2 separate regions of the Homo sapiens genome follow, and region 2 is linked to region 1. The links come from fine-mapping of genetic effects on gene expression. A gene starts in region 1. The other region holds a variant in brackets. All regions are shown on one strand. Distances are between the middles of the regions.

Region 1 (10,732 bases):
CTCCCTTTGAATCTCCCTTTGAAGCGGGTTTGAATCCTGTCCTTTGCAGACATGGATGCAGCTGGAGGCCATTATCCTAAGCAAATGAACGCAGGAACAGAAACCCAAACACTGCATGTTCTCACTTATAATGGGAGCTAAACATTGAGTACACATGGACACAAAGATGGCAACAATAGACACGGGGGCCTACGTGAGGGTGGGAGGAGGGTGAGGATGGAAAAACTACCTCTCAGGTACTGTGCTCACTACCTGGGTGCGAAACGATTGGTATACCAAACCCCAGTGGCACGCAATTTACCCACGTCATAAACCTACACACGTACCCCCTGAACCTAAAATAAAAGTTGGAAGGAAAACAAAATAAAAAAGACAATAAGGGGATTCGGAAGAACAAGGCAGCTACCCTAGGCCATCCCACCAGACAAGAGAAAGACACTTCCCTCAAACCCTTCTTGATGGGTGGAAAGAAGGGAGTCTCTTAACATGTGCAAATGGGTTCGTTAATGGAAAAAAAAAAAAAAAGTCCTTATTCCATGTGATACCCACATCAGAACTCTCTCTCCAGCAGTGTGTCACATTGCCCTAAAAATGTCTTCAATCGGGGACCGGAAGAGATGGGTCACAGCCCCAGAGGCCTAGACTGGCCTGGCCCCCACTATCATCCCAACTTGGTTGTGGCAAAGCCCATTGCTTTGGAAGAGTGATGATCATCAAAATGTTCCTCCAACTCTGGCATTTGGCCCAGATCGGAAGACTCTTTTATATTTTCATTCCCAACCCTTACGATCCCGACCCTTACATTTTGCAACCACCTTGGCCATCCTGCACCTCTATGTCTTACCAACTATAGTTAAGAATCACAGAAGTGGTAGCTATGATAGCAATTTCATTTCATTTCCCTCAGCACTTTTCCTTTCCTCTAAGACAATTTCTTAGGGCCCTGTGCTGTCCATGACAATCATACACAGTCAGGAACAGTCGTAACGGCTCACATGTATTGAGCACTTACTCTTTTAAGCATTACGCTAACGGATTTACATAATTATAGTTTTTACATATTTAAATCATATTGCATTAGCCCTCTGACATAGATCAGGGGTGTCCAATCTTTTGGGCCCCATTGGAAGAAGAATTGTCTTGGGCCACACATAAAATACACTAACACTAACGATAGCTGATAAGCAAAAAAAAATTGCAGAAAAATCTCGTAATGTTCTAAGAAAGTTTACAAATTTGTGTTGGGCCACATTCAAACTGTCCTGGGCTGCAGGTTGGACAAGCCTGATATAGATGCTACTATTGTCCCTGTTCTGTAGAAGAGGAAACTGAGGCTCAGCATGCCAATCTTCATCTCATCTTGTTCTCATACTTTGGGAAGAACTCCTTATCCAACAGTAAAGCTTCAGGGATCCAAAGTTTATGAATGGTCTTTTTTAACAGCTGGGAGGTAAGGAGGGATAGCAGGAGAGAGAGAGGGCATACGCTAATACTCTCTGATCTGGGCTTTTGGAAGAGTATTCTTGATTCCTTTGGTCACAAAATTCACACAAGGTGTAGCTATACTATTGTTTTGCTGTGGCACAGGATTTAGCCAATTCTTACCCTACTGTCTTCCTGGATTTCCCAGTCACTGGAGAAAGTCGCCAGCTGCTGCCCTTGCGAACAGTTTGAAAACTGGAAAAGGCTAGAAAACATCCTTCTGTTCTCTTGAGTGTCTGGGAAGATGGCATCTTGGAAATTGACTCCGTGAGGCAAGAGGTTATAATTTTCATCCATCCTAATGGAGGAAAAAAAGGCAGACATGTAGGCTAGACAGTCAAGGGTGTACCAGCTCCAATCCAGAGTCACAGACAACTGCAACGGGCTTGCCAATTTCACATCAATGTCTGGCATGGCTCTCATTAGAGGAGTTACTACTTCTAATTATTTCTTTGTCTCACGCTACATCAGTCTATCCTTAAGGTTTTCAAAAAGATGAGTTTGAGCAAAGTATGGAGAAAACTATGTGTATGGTGCCTGTTTGTCTATTTGTGTTGTCTTCCAAGTCCCCCAAGGGGTCTTCCTTCTCAAAGAGTGTTCCTTATTTCCTGGTGAAAAAAAGGCCAGCTGTCATCACCTATGTTTAAGTTCTGTCTTTGCTATTTATCTTCTGTATGACATGAAACAAATGTCTTAACTCCTCTAAGCTTCAGTATTCTAATCTGCAAAAAGAATATAGTACTGGCTAGGTGCGGTGGCTCACACCTGTAACCCCAGCACTTTGGGAGGCCAAGGCAGGTGGATCACCTAAGGTCAGGAGTTCGAGACCAGCCTGGCCAACACAGTGAAACCCTGTCTCTACTAAAAATACAAAAATTAGCTGGGCACGGTGGCACACACCTGTAATCCCAGTTACTCAGAAGGCTGAGGCAGGAGAATCACTTGAACCTAGGAGGCGGAGGATGCAGTGAGCAGAGATTGCACCATTGCACTCCAGCCTGGGTGACAAGAGTGAGACGCCATCTCAAAAAAAGAACATATATAAGTAAAAAATAGTACCTACTTTTCTGGTGATGTCATAAGCATTGCATCAAAAACCTAAGTAAATGAAGCACTTGGTACAAAGTAAATGCAGTATGCATGTTAGTGAACACATTTAAAGGCCTAGCATTAATCAATTAGAATGATTCTTTAAAATGTCACAAAAAGAAAGAGATGAAAGTTACACTCCAGTCTACAGAAAACACGTAGGGCTCACCAGCAAGTCTCCGTTGCCACCCTCACCCCTGACAGTGACCACAGGTCCAGTTTCATCTCAGTGGGTCCCAGAATAACAGAGAAGGAATGATTTGTGTGTAGTTGTTAACACACTCCAAGGCAAGACAGCCCTGTGAAATGAAAATGTCAGACTACTGTCTTTGTATTTCTGCCCTAACTTTTGTAAACATGGTAGAGCAAAAAAGATGAGAATTGGCTGAGCACCACGGAACTATTGGACAAACTGTATTTCATGATAAAAATTTCTTTAAAAAGCCTGCTCAAACACTTGGGCTCTTTTTCCTTTGGAGAACAAAGTTCTGGTTTTGAATAGTTTTATAGATGGTTTCTCAGTATCTTTCCTAATTAAAAACATGAAACCCTAAGTTTCTCTGTATCGAGAAGGGCACTCTCTCAGTCTCACTGGCTTTATTTAGAAACTACACTTCTCTGGAAATACATACATATATATAAAAACTTAATCTAGCTGAACCACTCAAGCCAACACAAAGCAAGACGTGTTTTTTAAACTTAGATATTCTGGCTTCAATATGGAAAACATGTGTTGCCATGCACTTACAAACACCACTTTGTAGAACTGTTTTCTTTCTCAGAGAAATGCGAGCTAAAAGTGAATCTGCAGACCCACGTCAGCCTCATTCCAAATATCCTCAGTGCTACTTCCCAGACTGGGAAAACGAACTACAACCGATCACCCCAACAGTGGATTAATTTACTATCTTGATAGATAGGTTAGATTCCATTTTGATGTTTTTCTCAGTTGTTTTATATCACTCTCCAAATTCCAACTGAAGCTAACCAAAGAATTTAGAGTTCTACCTGGCACTCTCTATTCAAATTTCAGAAGAATTCAGTAGTCAATGAGAATTGACTGAATTCTTAGGCAGATGCATTCCATCTTGACCACAGGCCAAGTTCTGAAGTTCATGGAACTTCAGAAGATTCCAGTGGTCTATAATCAAAGAGGACCTCCTGGCCTGGTTCACCTCTCCACTCCTCAAAGCATTGCTACCCAGGATTTTACCAGCAGCAGAACCCCAAGCCCTAGTAAACCTTTGCTATTTCAAAGAACCTGGCAGCTGATATGAGACAGTGAAGCAATCCCGGGCTACATTCCACACCATTCACATCTTGGCATTTGAGCAAATGAGGAAGAGGAGAGAGTGGACAGCTGGTCAACTTCTAACCTGCACCAGGTGCTTTGCATGAGTTACGTTCCTCACTCAACCAGCCCTGTCTCTCACTTTACACAGGTGAGGCTATGGAAGTTCTTGAGAAGGTGTCAAGAAATGCGCTCAGAATCACGGTTAGGAAGGGCAGAGCCAAAATGCCAGCCACAGACTGATTTCAAAGATTGTTTTTCTCACCGTCCCAATCTACTCCCACTGAGGCCAGTTTAAAAACCCAAGTCAAAGGGACTGTTGGAGGGCGCTTTGAGCTTCTGTCTGCAATGCTCTTCTGTGTACAAGGCACAGAAACCTTCCCTGTCTTTTAAACCGCCTTAACCAGGGGTAGTCAGGATGTCTGTAGAGACGTCAGACGGAGCAAGAAAGATCCAAGAAGGCAAGGGGTAGGCGCCCCAGGGGCATTCTCACTTGACACCGACAGGCTGCCCGGGGAGTTACCGGCCTGGCTCTAGGTAACGGCGACCTCGGGAGGTGGCGCAGAGAGAGAGAGAGGTGGCGGCGGCGCCGCCGGGCTCACCTGAGGAAGAAGAAATAGGAGTAGTCCTGGACCACGGTGTGGGAGTGGCACGAGAAGTAGCCCAGGCCGGTGAGGTTGAGCCTGGAGCCGGCGGGCACCTCCAGCATGCTGCCCCACGCCTGGTCGCACAGCATCTCGACCTCGGCCGAGTAGAAGAGGCCCCCCTGGCCGGCGTGGTACTGCCAGGGCAGGTGGTTGTAGAGGCCGGGCGCCTCGGGGTGCAGCGCCAGCACCCTGGCGTACACGATGGTCTCGGCCAGCTCGGCGCGGCAGCCCTCGCTCAGGGGCCTCCACTCGGAGGGCAGCTGGCAGGCGCGCGCGGGCGCTGGGGGACCCGCCAGGCAGAGCGCGGCGAGCAGCAGCTGGCGCAGCATGCCGGGCCCTCCCGGGGCGCACGGGGCGGCGGCGGGGAGCCCGGGGAGCCCGCCGGCCCGGGAAGGGCAGCCCTGGGCGCTCGGCTGCTCGGGCCGCTCCCGGGAGCTGAGCGCACCGCTGTCTCCGCCACGGGGCTCGGCATGCCCGGCCCTGGCGCGCCACGCTTTAAAAGGGTCCCGGGGACTGGACGCGCCGGGCGCCCGCCTCCCGCCCTGCCCCCTGCGGCTGGGGCGTGGGCGGGGGAGGGGCGGGGAGTCGGGCGGGTCCCGGCGCCGGCTGGGGCGGGGACCAGGGACTCGGAGAACGCGGGGACGCCGGGACCCAGCCCTGAATTGGGGACAGTGGCCCAGCAATCTCCTGGCGCCCCACGATGGACGTGGTCCGAGCTTGCCAGGCGTAAAGCCTGTTTGCAAACGCAAGGCATTCATTAAAGAATGACTCTTAATTTGCACGATTACTGCCTAAGTTTTTACATTTTCTCTACATTTCAGAGTAAAAATACATAGAAACCAAATCTGACTTTATATTCCCAGAGATTAGGAAATTCAGTGTGGGCTGAGATCTCGTGCTCTCTCAGATTTGCTAGTTATTTAATGAAGATCTTAGAAAAGCTTTGATAAAAGATTCCAAAAAGCAATCATTTGGCCCTGATTTTCTTGGTTTCCATAATCCCTGATTCCATTTTCTAAACACTGTACACCTGAGAAATACATTCAGAAGTAAATCCCAAACAGCTTTTCACATCAGTGAGTGAATTTGAGGATACTGACTCCACAGTTCCATCTTTATCTCTAAAGGCAACAGGTTTTTTGTTTTGTTTTTTGTTTTTTTCTTGAGACAAGGTCTATATCTGTCACCCAGGCTGGAGTACAGTGGCTCCATCAGGGCTCACTGCAGCCTCGACCTCCCCTGGGCTCAGGTGATCCTCCCAGGTCAGTCTCCCAAGTAGCTGGGAATACAAGCACACTGCCACCCCGGATAATTTTTTGTTTTTAGTAGAGACAGGCTATGTTGCTCAGGCTGGTCTCAAACTCCTGGGCTCAATCGATCCTCCCACCTCAGCCTCCCAAAGTGCTGAACTTTCAGGCGTGAGCCCCCACATCCACCCTGAATATTTAAATTATGCAATTTCATAATGCTATTAGTCTCCCAGGGCTGCCATAATAAAATACTCTAGTCTGGTGGCTTAAATAACAGACCTTACTTTCTCAGAGTTTTGGAGGCAGGAAGTCCAAGATTAAAGTGCTAGGGTTGGTTACTGGTGAGGCCTCTCTTCCTGGCTTACAGACGGCCACCTTCTCACTGTGTCCTCACGTGGCCTTCTCTCTGTGTGTGATGGAGAAAGAGTGAGCCCTGGTCTCTTCCTCTTCTAACAAGGTCACTAGTCCTATGGGGTTATCACCCCACCCTTATGTCCTCATTTAATTACCTGCCTGAAGACCCTATTTCCAAATACAGTCACATTAGGGAGTTAGCACTTCAACATATGAATTTGGAGGTGGGAGGGGAGACATAATTCAGTCTATATGAGCTATTTAGCAGGTGTTCTGCAGGTTTGCTAGAGAAAGAGAGCAGGGATCCCAAATGGTTTATATTCCTGGCAGGCAGACTCACAGCACACACTGCCAAGTTATAATAAGAATTGCTAAACCTTAGTCATTGTTGACCATGGGCCAATCACTGTTGTAAGGACTGTACATATGTCATCTTAATAAATTCTCCAAACAATATTCTGAAGTAGATATAACTATTATCCTCATTTTACAGATAACAGGCACAGAGAAGTTAATTGACACCAAAGATCACAAAGCTACAAGTTGACCAAGCTAGGATTCAGCTCCCAGCAATCAGACTCCAGATCCATGTACTTAACTACAACACTAGAATAGGGCCAAATATAGGAAATGCTCTAAAGACACAGGTCGGCCCTTTAACCAGGATATACACAGAGCAAATTAAGAGAAAACCTTAGCAGAGTCACCAATGATGGCTCAAGGAGTGTGCAACTGACCTAACATTAATTTTGTATGACCCAGAATCCCTGCTCTATTTTAGTCCTATACTGTAACTCATCAGATAAGATAGTAAGAAAGTTTTTCTTACTAACTGCATCTTCAAGTGTCTTGAAGGCCTGGAAAAGATTTGTCTACCCCAAAAGACTGTAAGGCCCTCTCTTTTCTTTCCACATAGGTGAGCAAATAAATAAAAATCAGCAAACATGGCTGTTTTTTCTCTTGTTGTATAAACTTGACAGAATCAAAACTCTTCCAATACTTCCCACAGTGTATTTTGCAGAAGTGAGCACCTGCAAGAAATCGTCCTCATGGATTCAGCAGACACATCAGTCATGCTTTTCTCCCCTGTAAGATCTGGCAGAGTGCCTCACTGATTGGGTTTCTCTTCCTGATTGAGCCATTGCAGTGTACCGTAGTGAGCAGTTCCTCTTTGGGGACTAAGACTTCCAAACAAGCAGAGCTCAAGGTAGCCAGGAGGGGAAACAAAACTTCTGTGAGTGAATTATTGGGTTTAATAGTGACATGAGCCACTTCCATCTCTTGATTCCGAGACCTATATGTCCTGGCTGTGGGGTGGATAGTACCGTATATGTATGTTCTGTTTCAAAGCACACACAGTAAGTACACTTTAAGATGGACTCCATCATTTCAGTGTGGTGACTCCCAACTGACACTATAATTAAGTCTTCACTAAACTGTTACATCCTTCAAAATTTGTCCAGTTGCTTCCAGGTGATGGGACATGTGGTAAAACCAGTTAATTCTATGGCCTTGAGACCACTGCTGCACTTCATTGCTGTGAAAGAAGCAATGCTGTGGGAATCATTGATCAGAAACATCACTATGGGAAATTCCATGATGGTGGATAAGGTGCCCCATGAGTCCATAGATGGTGCTACTGGCAGAAGCATTATGGCAGGGAAGGCATATCCGTGTCCAGAATGTGTCTATTTCAGTGAGGACAAATCTCTGACCCCCACCCCCCACCCCAAGATGGAAAAGGTCCGATGGAATCAACCTGCCACCAGGTGGCTGACTAGTTCCCCAGGTGAATGGGGCCACATTAGGGGATCCATGTTGGCCTCTATTGTTGACATATTAGGCTCTCAGCAGTAGTAGTAGTGTTAGCTAGGCCAGCCGTGGTAAGAGGAAGTCCACATTGTTGAGGCAATGAATACCCTCTGTTTCTGCCACCATGGCCACTCTGTTTATGGGCTCATTGAGTAAGCAGTAGAGTGGCCAAGAAAAGAGACTGACAGACACCCACTGAGTACATCAATTGCCCACCTAATCACTAAGAACTTCCCCTCCACTGAATGCACTTTGGTCATCATTCACATGGGTCACAAATATCTTCACACTTGGTAACCGTTATAAGATGTCCATTCATTCACCTCTTCCCAAGATGTCCTTGTCATCAATCTTCTGATCCTATTTCTTTCAAGTCCCTAACCATCAACCAAACCACTAGCAACTGCCCACGAATCAGTGTCCATGTGTACTCCCAGCCCTCTCTTAGTCTAGACATAGCATACAACAAAATCTGCTGCTCAAAGTTCTATCGACTGGGAGAATTTTTCTTCACCAGTGTCCTTCAGGATCACCCATGAGTGAAACTGAGTAATATCTGTGTGTAATACAGAAAAATCTTCAAACCAGTCTTGTTATTTCTTCCTCATTCAACTGGAGTATCTTCAAGAGGCCATAAACCATATGAGTGGAAGAGGCAACGTACCTTCAGAGTCAAAGGAATCTAAGCCACTTGCCCATGCAACTTGCTTGCACCATCTGGACCTGCCCAATCCCAGTCTCTTGGATACCATTTCCATTTAATGGTAGATTGCTGCTGCGCACACATGGCCTTATGTCTAGGAGGGTCATACAACACCCAATTCATGATGAGAAGTTCAGATTACATAGTCACCCAGCATACCATGGTTAGGCATTCAATCTCTACCACAGCCTAGTAGCAAGGGAGATGCTATTTTTCAAAAGGCAAACAGCCATATCCAGAATAAGGCATAGATGTGCACTAAAACCCCAGAGTTTTGTGCTGTGATTTTCCTTCTGGTGCTTTCTAAAGACTCCATACAACATTCCTGTTTGCCATAAATACTTTATCACTGGACCTTCTAGATAATAAGGCTCAAGTGATACAGTGACTTGTACACAGCCTGAACTTGCTGCAGAGACTTCTCAGAACTTGCTCAACACCACTTGAAACTGGCAGCCTTAGAGATAACTCTATAGATGAATTCAAAAAGCATTTTTAAATGTGGCATATGTTCCCTCCTAAATACAAAAAGGCTGAACATACATTCTCCCTCTTTTCCCATTTAGATCATCCAAGGACCAGCAACTTTCCTTTTGCCTTGGAGGAGTGACAATTGAGCCCCCAGAAACCATACTGAGGTGGCAGGTCCCTGAATTTTTGTGGGGCCTATCTCCCACCTTATATCTTACCAAGGCCTCTAAAGTATATGGTGTTTCATGAACATCAGATCCATTCATCATACTGTCATCCATGAGGTAATCCAATGTGATGTTTTGTGGAACGTCAAGACAATCAACATCTCTGCAGAATAAATGTGATAGAGAGCAGGAGAATTGACATAGCCTGAGGCAAAACTGAAAGTATACTGTTAGCCCTGACAGGTAAATGCAAACCGTTGCTGGCAATCCTTGCAAATCAGTGAGGAGAAAAGGGCAGGTCAGTAGCTACGAAGCAAATGCTGGGAGACATATCAATTTGCTCCAGGAAAGATACTACATCTAGGACAGCAGCTGGAATTTTAGCCACCACCTCATTAAGTTCATAGTAGTCTTCAGTCATTCTTCAAGACCCATGCAACTTTTGCACAGCCCAACTGATGAGTTCAGTGGAGATGTGATAACTATCGCCACTTCTTTCAAGTCTTTGATGGCAGCATGGATTTTTGCAATCCCCTCAGGGATGCAATATTGCTTCTGATTTATTCTCTTGGTAGAAATGAAAGTTCTAGGAGCTTCTGCTTAGTCCTTCCAACAATAAAAGCCATCACCCATGGGTCAGAGAGAAAATGTGGGGGTTTGTCAGTTGTCAACTTTGGTCCCTTTGGAGAAGTCTTAGAGGAGGATTTATGGTGTGTGCATGTGGCAATGGTGCAGGGTCCTTCCTCAAGGGCACCTGGCTTACCTTTCAGTCAAAAGGCTCTGTGTCTATAAATTTACTTATGTCTAAAAGCTAGGTAAGGGGCTTCAGTTCCTCTCTGTGGGAATTCAAGTCAGGTTTTCAGCTACCAGAGTTTTTGCTGTTACATAGATCAGGCACTACACCCACAGGTTGCCCACATATTTACTTTCAAGAGACATCATGATCAACTATCCACTGTCAAAGATCTCTGCCAATCGAAACATTCTGATTACTAGTATGCCCCTCCCGACCTTTACGGTAGAGGTACTTACCTTCCCTTTGGCAGTTAAGTGCTGCCGTTTGACCCCTTTTCGATGGCATCATCCTGTACTAGAGTCATAACTTTTCTAGAAAGAGGAGAAACCACAGAGATGTTCAAGGATGCAGTACTTCCTTCATTAATATATTTCTCATTGCTGTCGTGAAGGAAATACCTCTGGGTCATCTTGTGGAATGTAGTTGGCAGGTGGCTGTGCAGGTCACACATCGAGTATTCAGTTCAACCTTCCTAATTCCCTAAGCCTTTGGATTCCCTCCTTTACATTGTTTCAGGGAAGCTCTGGCATCTCAGCCAGCATGGAATTCCTTCAAATTGTAGTCAACCAATCAAGTAAGCTATTAGAGTCACCTCTAGAAGTATATTAAATTTATACTCTCAAACGCATCAAAACAATAAATTTTGCCAAAACTAGTATTATATTCTGCC
Region 2 (10,585 bases), 35 kb before region 1:
ATTTTTGAAGGGTATGCATAGGAGGAAATGTAAACCTCTGATAAGGAATAAAGGATTACTTGGACCCGTATATGCTAAGTGCCAAGCCAGACAGATGGGCAAACATCACATTTTATGAGATTGATTGTAAATAATGGAACGTTGCTCTCTGAAAAGATTGAAAGTAAGTTTGATAAAAGGCCAAGAAGAATGAAAACAGAAACTGCTATCTTCATGCTGTGTAAGAGCTCCCAAATTTCTCCAGGCCTTCTTCGGCTTCTCTGAAGTGGAAGGATTTGATATGACAAATTCTCCTGTCACATAGACACCCTCCCTGAAAGTAATTGGCTTTGCATTCAAGAAAAACACGTAACGATCAGTAAGCCCCCAAATCTCAAGGTTGCAAGAATAAAACTTGATGCATTAATGAAGTGCCATAATAAAATGGGCTTTTGGCCGGGCACAGTGGCTCACGCCTGTAATCCTAGCACTTTGGGAGGCCGAGGCAGGCGGATCACGAGGTCAAGAGATCAAGACCATCCTGGCCACCATGGTGAAACCCTGTCTCTACTAAATATACAAAAATTAGCCAGGTGTGGTGGTAGGTGCCTGTAGTCCCAGCTACTCAGGAGGCTGAGGCAGGAGAATTGCTTGAACCTGGGAGCTGGAGGCTGCAGTAAGCCAAGATCGCACCACTGCACTCCAGCCTGGTGACAGAGCAAGACTCTGTCTCAAAAAACAAAAATTTAAACAAATAAAATGGGCTGTTACATTTCGAACGGCTTACAACTGTCACTGTTACATTTAAAATGACACATCAAGGGGTCAGAAGGAAAAGCTAAGTCCTAAGTGGTATAAAATGACATCAAACATTACAGGGATTTTTAAGTGTGAAAAACACTCAAAAATCATTCAGAATACACAAGAGTAAAGTTTTTCCCAAGTAATGCATCAAACATAGATCAGGAAGGTTATTTTTATTTATAGCTAAAAGCTTAGGAAGCCAATTTTCTTCTTTTCCTTCTTTTTGGCTAGGGTTGACAGCTTTTATATGGTTTCTTCCAAGCTTTATGTGTGTGTTTTCATAAAAAGATTTAAACTTACATACTTATATACACTATTTTCCACCTCCATTCTTCCCTCATCAAAAGTAATGGGATCTATGCTTTTTATTTGGTTAAGAGACCTTGGCTGTTTTAAAAATACGTCTGCAGTTAAACACCACTTTCAACTAGTGAAAGAAAATAGCTGTGGGAAAGAAGAGGCAATTGAGACTGGGTTTCATTAACACATTAAGCGATCATATTTTTTCTTTATTTAGAAGGCTGCTTTACCTCCTCTCAAGATACAGACTATGACCAAACATAGGCCAACTGCTCACTCCATCTCCTCTTTGCTTCTGAGATCTCTTAACCTTGTTGACCTTTACAATCCATCTCTCTTCCTCTATCTCTAAACAGCACCATTCACAATGATCCTTTTCACTGGTATGGCATTGAGACTTACCAAATCCACATGCTAATCCCAATAACAGCAGCAAATACACACATAGCACTTCCCACGTCTTCAACACTTTCTAAAGAGTTTCATATATACTAACACATTAAATCATATGTTCTATCTGTTCCTCATAATGATCCTATAGGGGTTATTATGTATGTTGCCTAATTCCTGCCTTCCTTCCTATTGAACTCCAGTTTTGTTTTCCGGGTTTTTTTTTTTTTTTTTTTTTCAGACAGGATCTCACTCTAACCCAGGCTGGAGTGCAGTGGCATGATCTTGGCTCACTGCAACCTCCTTCTCCCGGATTCAAGTGATCCTCCGCCTCAGCCTCCCATGTAACTGGGAATACAGGCGTGCACCACCCATGCCCAGCGAATTTTTTGTATTTTTAGTAGAGATGGGGTTTCACCATGTTGTTCTGGCTGGTCTCAAACTCCTGACCTGAAAGTGATCCACCCAGCTCAGCCTCCCAAAGTGCTGGGATTACTGGCGTGAGCCACCAAGCCTGGCCTGAACTCCAGTTTTCTTAAAGTTGCACTGTCTTTCACATGGCCATTACTTCAGGGCGGGATGTCCCAGGAGGCGAGTCGTTATTGGTCTAAGCTAATTAAGCAGGCCTACAAGGTACAAGTCAGTGATACAACTCTGGCCAATGACATGTGAGAAAAAGCTTGCTGGTTGTGGAGAGGGAGAAGTTGCTCATGAGAATCACATTTTCCAGCCGGGAGCGGTGGCTCATGCCTGTGATTCCAACACTTTGGGAGGGTGAAGCAAGCGGATCACTTGAGGTCGGGAGTTCGAGACCAGCCTAACCAACATGGAGAAACCCCGGTTCTACTAAAAATGCAAAATTAGCTGGGCATGGTGGTGCATGCCTGTAATCCCAGCTACTCAGGAGGCTGAGGCAGGAGAATCGCTTGAACCCGGGAGGCAGAGGTTGCAGTGAGCTGAGATTACACCATTGCACTCCAGCCTGGGCAACAAGAGCAAAACTCCATCTTAAAGAAAAAAAAAAAGAGAGAGAATGACATTTTCTGTTCTTTATAAAAGCCACACCAAAATAATCTCTCCCGCTTTCAGATCTTGTTGGGTCTGTAGTTTATGCCTGGAAGTGCTGCAGCCTTTTTGCATCCATGAAGGAATCTAGCCTGAGAACAACAGTACCACGAAGAGAGAATGCCGAGCCAAAAGAATCACCAAGAGGGGACCCAGATCCCTGATTAACCCGTGCCTGGAGCTACCACTACCTTTGCTTTCTTGCCTCATGTGATAATACATTTCCTCACTGTTTGAAATTCATTGAGTCCAGTTTTCTCTTACTTGTAGCCAAAGGCATCCTTAACAATGTAATTGACTCCACTTTGCAGATGAACAAAGAGACAAAGAGGGCAAGTGACACCTACAGTCACACCACTGGTAAATGTATTAAGAACATGCAGGCATTAGGGAGTAAAGTTTATACATAATTTAAAGTAGTATGTAGGAGTTTAGGACAGGCCACCCCAAAATATGCTGCTTTGGCATAAAGACTACTTTGAGCTGGAGGAACTTGAAAAACAGTACATGCAGACAGTGGCTTTCTCTGAATTCCCTTTATCTGCCTAAAGACAAAACCTCCAAAAGGAGCTCAGTTGTCGTCAGTACCCCCACCCCTGGGAGTTTCATCAACCAGGGAAAATTAACTCTTATCACAGGAGAGGAGAATGGAGGTGACATCACACCCAAGGTTTGTCACAAGCTATCACTTATTCTGAGGGTCTATTCATCTTTCCCCAAAATCATTTTCTCTCTCCTAAATTGCCTACATCCCCCCTCCCTGCTTTCCCCAAAAAGAGGGTATATAACCTTCTAAATCTCACTGTTTTAAGGGGTATGACTTTTTTTCCTATGATGTCCCTGTGCACTTAATAAACTTGTGTATCTTTTATCCTGTTAATCTGCCTGTTGTCAGTTTATTTCATAGACCCAGTTACTAAACCTTGGAAATTAGAGGGAAAATCTTCTCCCTCCTCCCTCCCAAAGGACTTCCAAACATATTTTATAAATTATATGTACTTATACTGTCATAGTCACATATACACACCACAACTAAAATTATGGTTCAGTTCACCAACTAGAGTTCAATATAAATTTACGATTCCTACTCCCGATGATTGTTAGATTTTTGAGTGTACGTAAGAGAGATGTCACTCACAGTGTCACAAGACACATAGAAAGGCAAATATATCTTTTCTTAAACACTAATTTTTTGCTGTAACAGTACATCTTTAAAAACCAAGTGATTAGCCATGACATTCAAAGTATAAACAATTTGTCATTCGTTGTTAATGCTTCTTTTCTCATGTAATCATGAGTCATTAACTTTTGGATGCCGGCAGTTTGGAATTTTCTGTCTATAAGGAG[A/T]CATCATGCAAGACAGAATGCCAAGTTGGCTCAGCCCTAAAGAGAAGGCTTCGTGACATACACACGTTGTAAATGGCACATGGAGAAGGTGTCTGCACCAAAGTATGTAGAGAATAGGATTCAGAACACAGTTCACATTGGATGATAAATCATTGAGTCTTGTGAAAGTGAATAAGGAGTTCATTTTTGATGACCACAAATCATTAAGTTTCTCCAGCACAGAGTGAATCCACCATCCCAGGCATTTTCTTAGGTCCCCTTTGCAAGCCTTTCACGAGATGTTCCCAAGGCTGGGCCTCACTCTATCACCGTCTGTGGGCAATAAGCCCCTGGCAGTAGCGTAAATAGGCTGTGCTGAAGTCAAAGCCCACAAACTCAGTTTCTCGTTTCTCAACCTTACTCAGTTACCAGCCTTACTCATATTACTATATGGTACTCAGTTACCAGCCTTACTCATATTACTATATGGTACTCAGTTACCAGCCTTACTCATATTACTATATGAGCAAGGTTGAGAAACTAGAAACTGAGGGGCTGTGGGCTTTAAATTCAGCACAGCCTATTTACGCTACTATCTATAGGAGGAATCTCCCTTCCCCAGCCTGCTAGTTTTTGTGTAATGAGTCTTGCATTACAAGCATGCTCCTGGCTTCTCCCCAGACCCTCACACCCCTCCGGGAACAGGCAGGGACTCTGATTCCTGTACTTGCAAACAGGAACAAAGCATGCCTAGCTCTCCCCTTTTCCTCTTGGGAGCCAGCTGGCCACAGGGAGTTCCCAGTCCAGTCTGCTTCTTATCGAAGCAGAAAATTTTAGAGCATCAGACACGCCCCAGACATGGGCTACGGTTTTCCAAAGCGACCTGTGCCTCCTAAGTCCATCTAACCCTGAGGTTGGGAATCATCCCTCTTGCCTACAGATACAAGCCACACTGTATCATCTTCATCAGTTAAGAAAGGAAATCTTTGACTCAGTTAAGTCAGAAAGTGGGTGAGGAAACCAGTATTTATTGGGCGCCTTCAAATTCCAACGTGTTCTAAAATGAAGAGGTTTAACCATACCTTACTTTGTATAGCACTTGACAATGTTCAAAACAGTTTCCCGTATCTTATCTCTTTGGGTCTCCTCAACAAACCTGGGAGGAAGGCAGGGTGTGGAAATGGAAACCCAGCTATTTTAAACGAACTGTCCAGGGTAACAGCCTGTATCATCTTCCAGATCTCTTTTGCTGGAGTCCCTTCATCTTCTGGGCTTCCTCCAGCTTTCTAAGGAGTTGAACAAGCTGAGCGATTTACCCAGGGTGAGGCAGCTGTGAAACCATGCCCCTCTCCACCTTCTCCCATAAATCAGTTTTGACTTTTTAAAGGCTGGTTCCATATGCAATGTATTGACTTTTGTGCCATTCCATAAACAGCATAGGTCTTCCTATAGTGAAATGAACCCAGAACAGCTCCAAGAGGTGACTTCTCCACCAAATGAACAGACATCAGCATAAGGTAATGAGGAAACAAATAATATATCATATTCTTTTGGTGGTGTTATAATCTCCCAGTAACTAACCACAAAGAAATTAAGATATGTGAACTGCCTAAGAATTCAAAATAATTATTTTATGTTCAATGAACCTCAAAAAATCAGAGAAATATCCCAATGAGTCAGGAAAATAATAAATAATCAACATTAGAAATTTAATAGATATTACAATTATTTTTAAAAAATCAAATTCTGGAGCTGAAAAATACAATTAATAAAAAGTTCAATAGAAAATATCAACAGCAAAATTGATCAAGGAGAAAAAAAGTCTGTGAACTCAAAGACAGGTTATTTGAAAATATGCAGCCAGCAAAGAAAGGAAAAAAGTGAAAAGGGATGAAGAAAGCTTCAGGATTTATGGGACAACATCAAAAGAACAAAAATACTTGAGTTACAGGAATTAAGGGAAAAAAACATAGGGGCAAAGGGGTAGGCAAGCTTAAACAATAGCAGAAAACATGCCAATTCTAGGGAAAGACACAAATATCCAGGTAAAAGAAAGTCAAAGTTCTCTAATCAGATTCAATCCAAACAAGACTATCCCAAGACATATTATCATCACACTGTCAAGTATAAAGACAGGTCGGGCATGGTGGCTCATGCCTATAATCCCAGCGCTTTGGGAGGCCGAGGCGGGCAGATCACAAGGTCAGGAGTTCGAGACCAGCCTGACCAACATGGTGAAACCCAGTCCCTACTAAAAATACAAAAATTAGCCAGGTGTGGTGGCGTGTGCCTGTAATCCCAGCTACTCTGGAGGCTGAGGCAGGAGAATCATTTGAAGCTGGAAGGCAGAGTTTGCAGGCAGCCAAGATCACACCACTGTACTCCAGCCTGGGTGAAAGAGCGAGACTTCACCTCAGAAAAAAAAAAGAAAATACAAACACACACACATACACACACACACACACACACACAGAGTATCCTAAAAGGAACAAGAGAAAACAGGAAAACAATATATAAAGAAGTTCCAATAAGGCTAGTGGCAGATTTCTCAGTAGAAACCTAAGCCGTGAAAAAGTGGGATGATATATTCAAAGTATTGCAGGAAAAAACTTGTCAACCAAGAACACTGTACCTAGCAAGGCTGTACTTCAGAAATGGAGAGAAAGACTTTTCCCAACAAACAAAAGCTTAGTAAGTTCATCACCAACAGACCTGTCTTACAAGAAAGGTTAAAGAGAGTTCTTCAAGCTGAAAGAAGATGCTAATGGGTAACAGGAAAATACATCAAAGTATAAAACTCATTTGTAAAAGTAAGTAGTCAAATTCAGAACAGTCTAATATTATAATGGTGGTATGTAAGTAACATTTATCTTTAGTATGAAGGTTAAAAGATGAAACTATTTAAAATAATAGCTATAATTTTTTAAGGGATATACAAGATGTAAACTGTGACATCAAAAACACAAAATGGGGAGGTGGATTAAAAGTATGGAGTATTATCATGCAATCAAGGTTAAGTTATTTACAGCTTAAAATAAATAGCCCATTACAGTATCTTTTATGTAAGCCTCAAGGTAATCACAAAGCAAAAATCTATAGTAGATACACCAAAGATAGAAAGTAAGGAATCAAAGCAAACTATGAGAGAAAATCATCTAATCATAAAGAAGACAGCAAGAGAGGAAGAAAGGAACAAAGGAACAAGCAAAAAACAATTAACAAAATGGCAATAGTACATCCTTACCTATCAATAATTATCTTGAGTGTAAACAGATTAAAATCTCCTATAAAAGACAAACTACACACCTGATAAGAAGTTAATATTCAAAACATACAGGGAACTGAAACTACTCAATAGCATGTAAACAAGTCAATTAAAAAATGGGCAAAGGACCCAAATAGACATTTCTCTAAAGACGACATACAAATGGCCCAAAGGTAAATAAGAAAATGCTCAACATCACGAATCATCAGGGAAAAGGAGATTAAAACCATAATGAACTGTCATCTCACACCTGTTAGAATGACTATAATAAAAAAGACAAGCAATAAATGATGATGAGGATGTGGAGAAAAGAGAACCTTTGTAACAGTTGGTGGGAATGTAAATTAGTACACCACTATAGAAAACAGTATGGAGTTTCCTCAAAAAATTAAAAATAGATTGGAAATTATGTTCAATTATGGTAAATATATAACAACACACACCCACAAATTAAAAATAGAATTACCCAAGGTAATTTAGTACATAAGATTCAGAAGCTTACGTACCCAGTAGTAAACCGACTACTGGGTACATATCCAAAGGATATGATAACAGTATGAAAAAGAAGCCAACCTAAGTGTTTATTGACAGATGAATGGATAAAAAAAGTTTTTTTATATAATATATATGGTAGGATATTATTCATTCTTAAAAAAATTTTAGAAATTTTTTAATATTTTAAAAAATATTTTAATAATTTTAATATTTAATATTCTAATATTTTTAAAAAATATTTTTAAGATATTCATTCTTAAAAAAAAAAGAGGAAATCCTGTCATTTGTGACAACATGGATGAACCTGGAGGAAATTATGTTAAGTGAACTAAACCAGTCACAGAAAAGCAAAATACCATGTGACCTCAGTTATATGTGGAGTATAAAAAAGTCAAACTCATAGAAACAGAGGATAAGACAGAAAAATAAAATACTTCAAAGGGACTCAGTGTATGCCTATTTAATGAAGCCATTTTAATTTAAAACAGGATAGCCTGCAATGCCTTATCTCAAGTTAAATTAGCTTCTTGATGTATTTTGGTAGTGTTTTTTCTAATGTATGGGTTTTTAGGGTTTTTTCATCAATGGTGGTCTCCAAGATGGTAATTTAAAAGTTACAGGAAGGGGTGAGTCACAGCTTTTCCTGGCAAAGGCTGAAGGATGAGGGGTGAGGGGAGATGTTGGTCACAGACGCAAAATTTCAGTTACACCGGAGGAATGAGTTTACAAAATCTACTGCATATCGCGGCAACTACAGTCAATAACACTATTATGGTGGTTCAATATACAATAGTTCAACTTTACCGTGGGTTCACTGGGGTATTAAATGCATTTTCAACTTACGGTGGGTTTATTGCTGTACAACCCCATCGTAAGTTGAGGTACATCTGTAGTATGTATTGGAAAATTGCTAAAAGAGTAGATCTTAAGGTTCTCACCCCAAAAAAATAAGTTTGTGAGGTAGTATACATGTTAATTAGCTTGATGTAGCCATTCTACAACGTATACATATATTTAAAATCATACTGTACACAATAAACATATACAACTTTTACTTAATTAAATAAATTAAAAGTCAGTCTGGGCCGGGTACGGTGGCTCACGCCTGTAATCCCAGCACTTTGGGAGGCCGAGGCAGGGCAACTGGGGATCACCTGAGGCCAAGAGTTCGAGACTAACCTGGCCAGCATGGTGAAACCCTGTCTTTACCAAAAATACAAAACGTAGCTGGGCATGGTGGCAGACACCTGAAATCCCAGCTACTCAGGAGGTTGAGTGAGGCAGGAGAATCACTTGAACCTGGGAGGTGGAGGTTGCAGTGAGCTGAGATCGCATCACTGCATTCTAGCCTGGGCGACAGAGCAAGACTGTCTCAAAAAAAAAAAAAAAATTGTCAGTCTGCAAACCAATAACTAAGCAACTATAAAGCACTTCGCAAAGTTTGGCCTATCATTAAACCCTTCTACTTCTCAACGTTCATTTTTTAAATCTGGAATCTATCTACTTACTGATGTAATGTCAAGGCTTAAATATAAAGGTCTACAGAGTTACAGAATTTTGAAGGGAAGAAAAGCCTTATACCGTTAATGTGAATCAGATCCCAAGCTGTCCACTGTCCACAGAGTGCTGCCTCCCTCCCTGTCCCCAGGGACTCATGAGCTATATTTACACCATGGAGTGTAACCCTAAGTAGCTGGCGTGAGCAGGAAAGGGGCCATCGTGGGCAGCTGAACCAATGCCTGGGGCATCGTGCGCAGCTGAAACAATGCCTGGGCAGAACATGCATGTGGCTTCTATCCTTTCGGAAAGGAATGAGGACATTTGCTTGCCTTAACAGGTCCTGCAGATTGGCCACAAATTGGTCTTTGAGAACCTTAGATCTCTCACTCAGAGCACAGCTTCTCACTGTAGCCCACCGCAGATGGAGATGCAGAAAAGAAGGAACCCACACTCTAGGTCCTAAATGGCCTCCTTGCCAGATCCAGTGTCCTCCTGGCATCCTGAATGTCAGCTCCTGGCACTGCTACCCTATTGTCCCCAGCAGCCTCTGTGCCTGGGTCCCGCCATGCCACAACCCCTGCTCTCCCGCCCGTGTTGTAACAGCTCCTTTGCTGTCTGCTGGACTGAGGTGTGTTCCCTCTTCTGGTCCCACCAGTGCCCAAGCCCCGAAGTTTTTATTTGTTTGTTTTCGAGACAGAGTCTTGTACTGTTGCCCAGGCTGGAGTGCAGTGGCGCAATCTCAGCTCACTGCAACCTCCGCCTCCCAGGTTCAAGCGATTCTCCTTGCCTCAGCCTCCCAAGTCGCTGGAATTACAGGTGCCTGCCACCATGCCCGGCTAATTTTTTTGTATTTTTAGTAGAGACAGGGTTTCACTACGTTGGCCAGGCTGGTCTCAAACTCCTGACCTCGTGATCTGACCACCTCAGCCTCCCAAAGTGCTGCGATTACAGGTGTGAGCCACCATGCCCAGCCCGAAGTTTTTGTCTTTACCCTCTGCTCTCTCCTGCCTCTCCTAATGCTGCCTTATGGCTTCAACTATCACCTCCTGTGCTGGGAGCCTGGACTTCTCTCCACCTAGCACACTGCTGCGTGCAGGACAGTAACTCACTATCAAACCACCACCTCATGCCATACACAATCCAACCAAGCTCACGCACCCACACATGCCCTTAAACTCAACCCCACTCTCCACCCTCACTGGTTCCTGTGAGTTTCTTCATGTTTTCACCACATTTACAACCAAGCAGCCTCCAGCTTCCTCTTCCCCTCACCCCCAACTTCCAAAGCCACCTGGAGACTCATCCCTGCCATAGCCCCAGGCACACCCTTGGGCTTCTGCCTCAGTTTCCAGCCTGGCACTCTGGGTTTCCTGCTGGATCTGAATCCTGCCCTCAACCACATCCCATTCTGTGCTGGAGCTCTGACACCCTCCTACTACCTACCAAGTCCCCTTCACCCTG

What was found. PIP is the estimated chance that this variant, and not a neighbour inherited with it, causes the effect.
Region 2: its variant is the best candidate, but not a certain one, in a credible set for the expression of CCDC3 in fibroblasts (GTEx, PIP 0.56).

Annotation. Positions count from the first base shown.
Region 1 is chr10:12,996,733-13,007,464 of GRCh38, forward strand. CCDC3 (coiled-coil domain containing 3) reads right to left here and starts at 4,981. Exons shown (of 3, transcript NM_031455.4): 1 at 4,465-4,981; 2 at 1,606-1,780. The coding sequence starts at 4,838. RefSeq lists enhancers at 4,110-4,610, 4,611-5,111.
Region 2 is chr10:12,961,890-12,972,474 of GRCh38, forward strand. The region is part of intron 2 of CCDC3 (coiled-coil domain containing 3); the gene reads right to left. Among named protein-coding and RNA genes, the nearest start is that of CCDC3, 35 kb to the right of the region's middle. The variant A/T (reference allele first, on the strand shown) is at 3,886.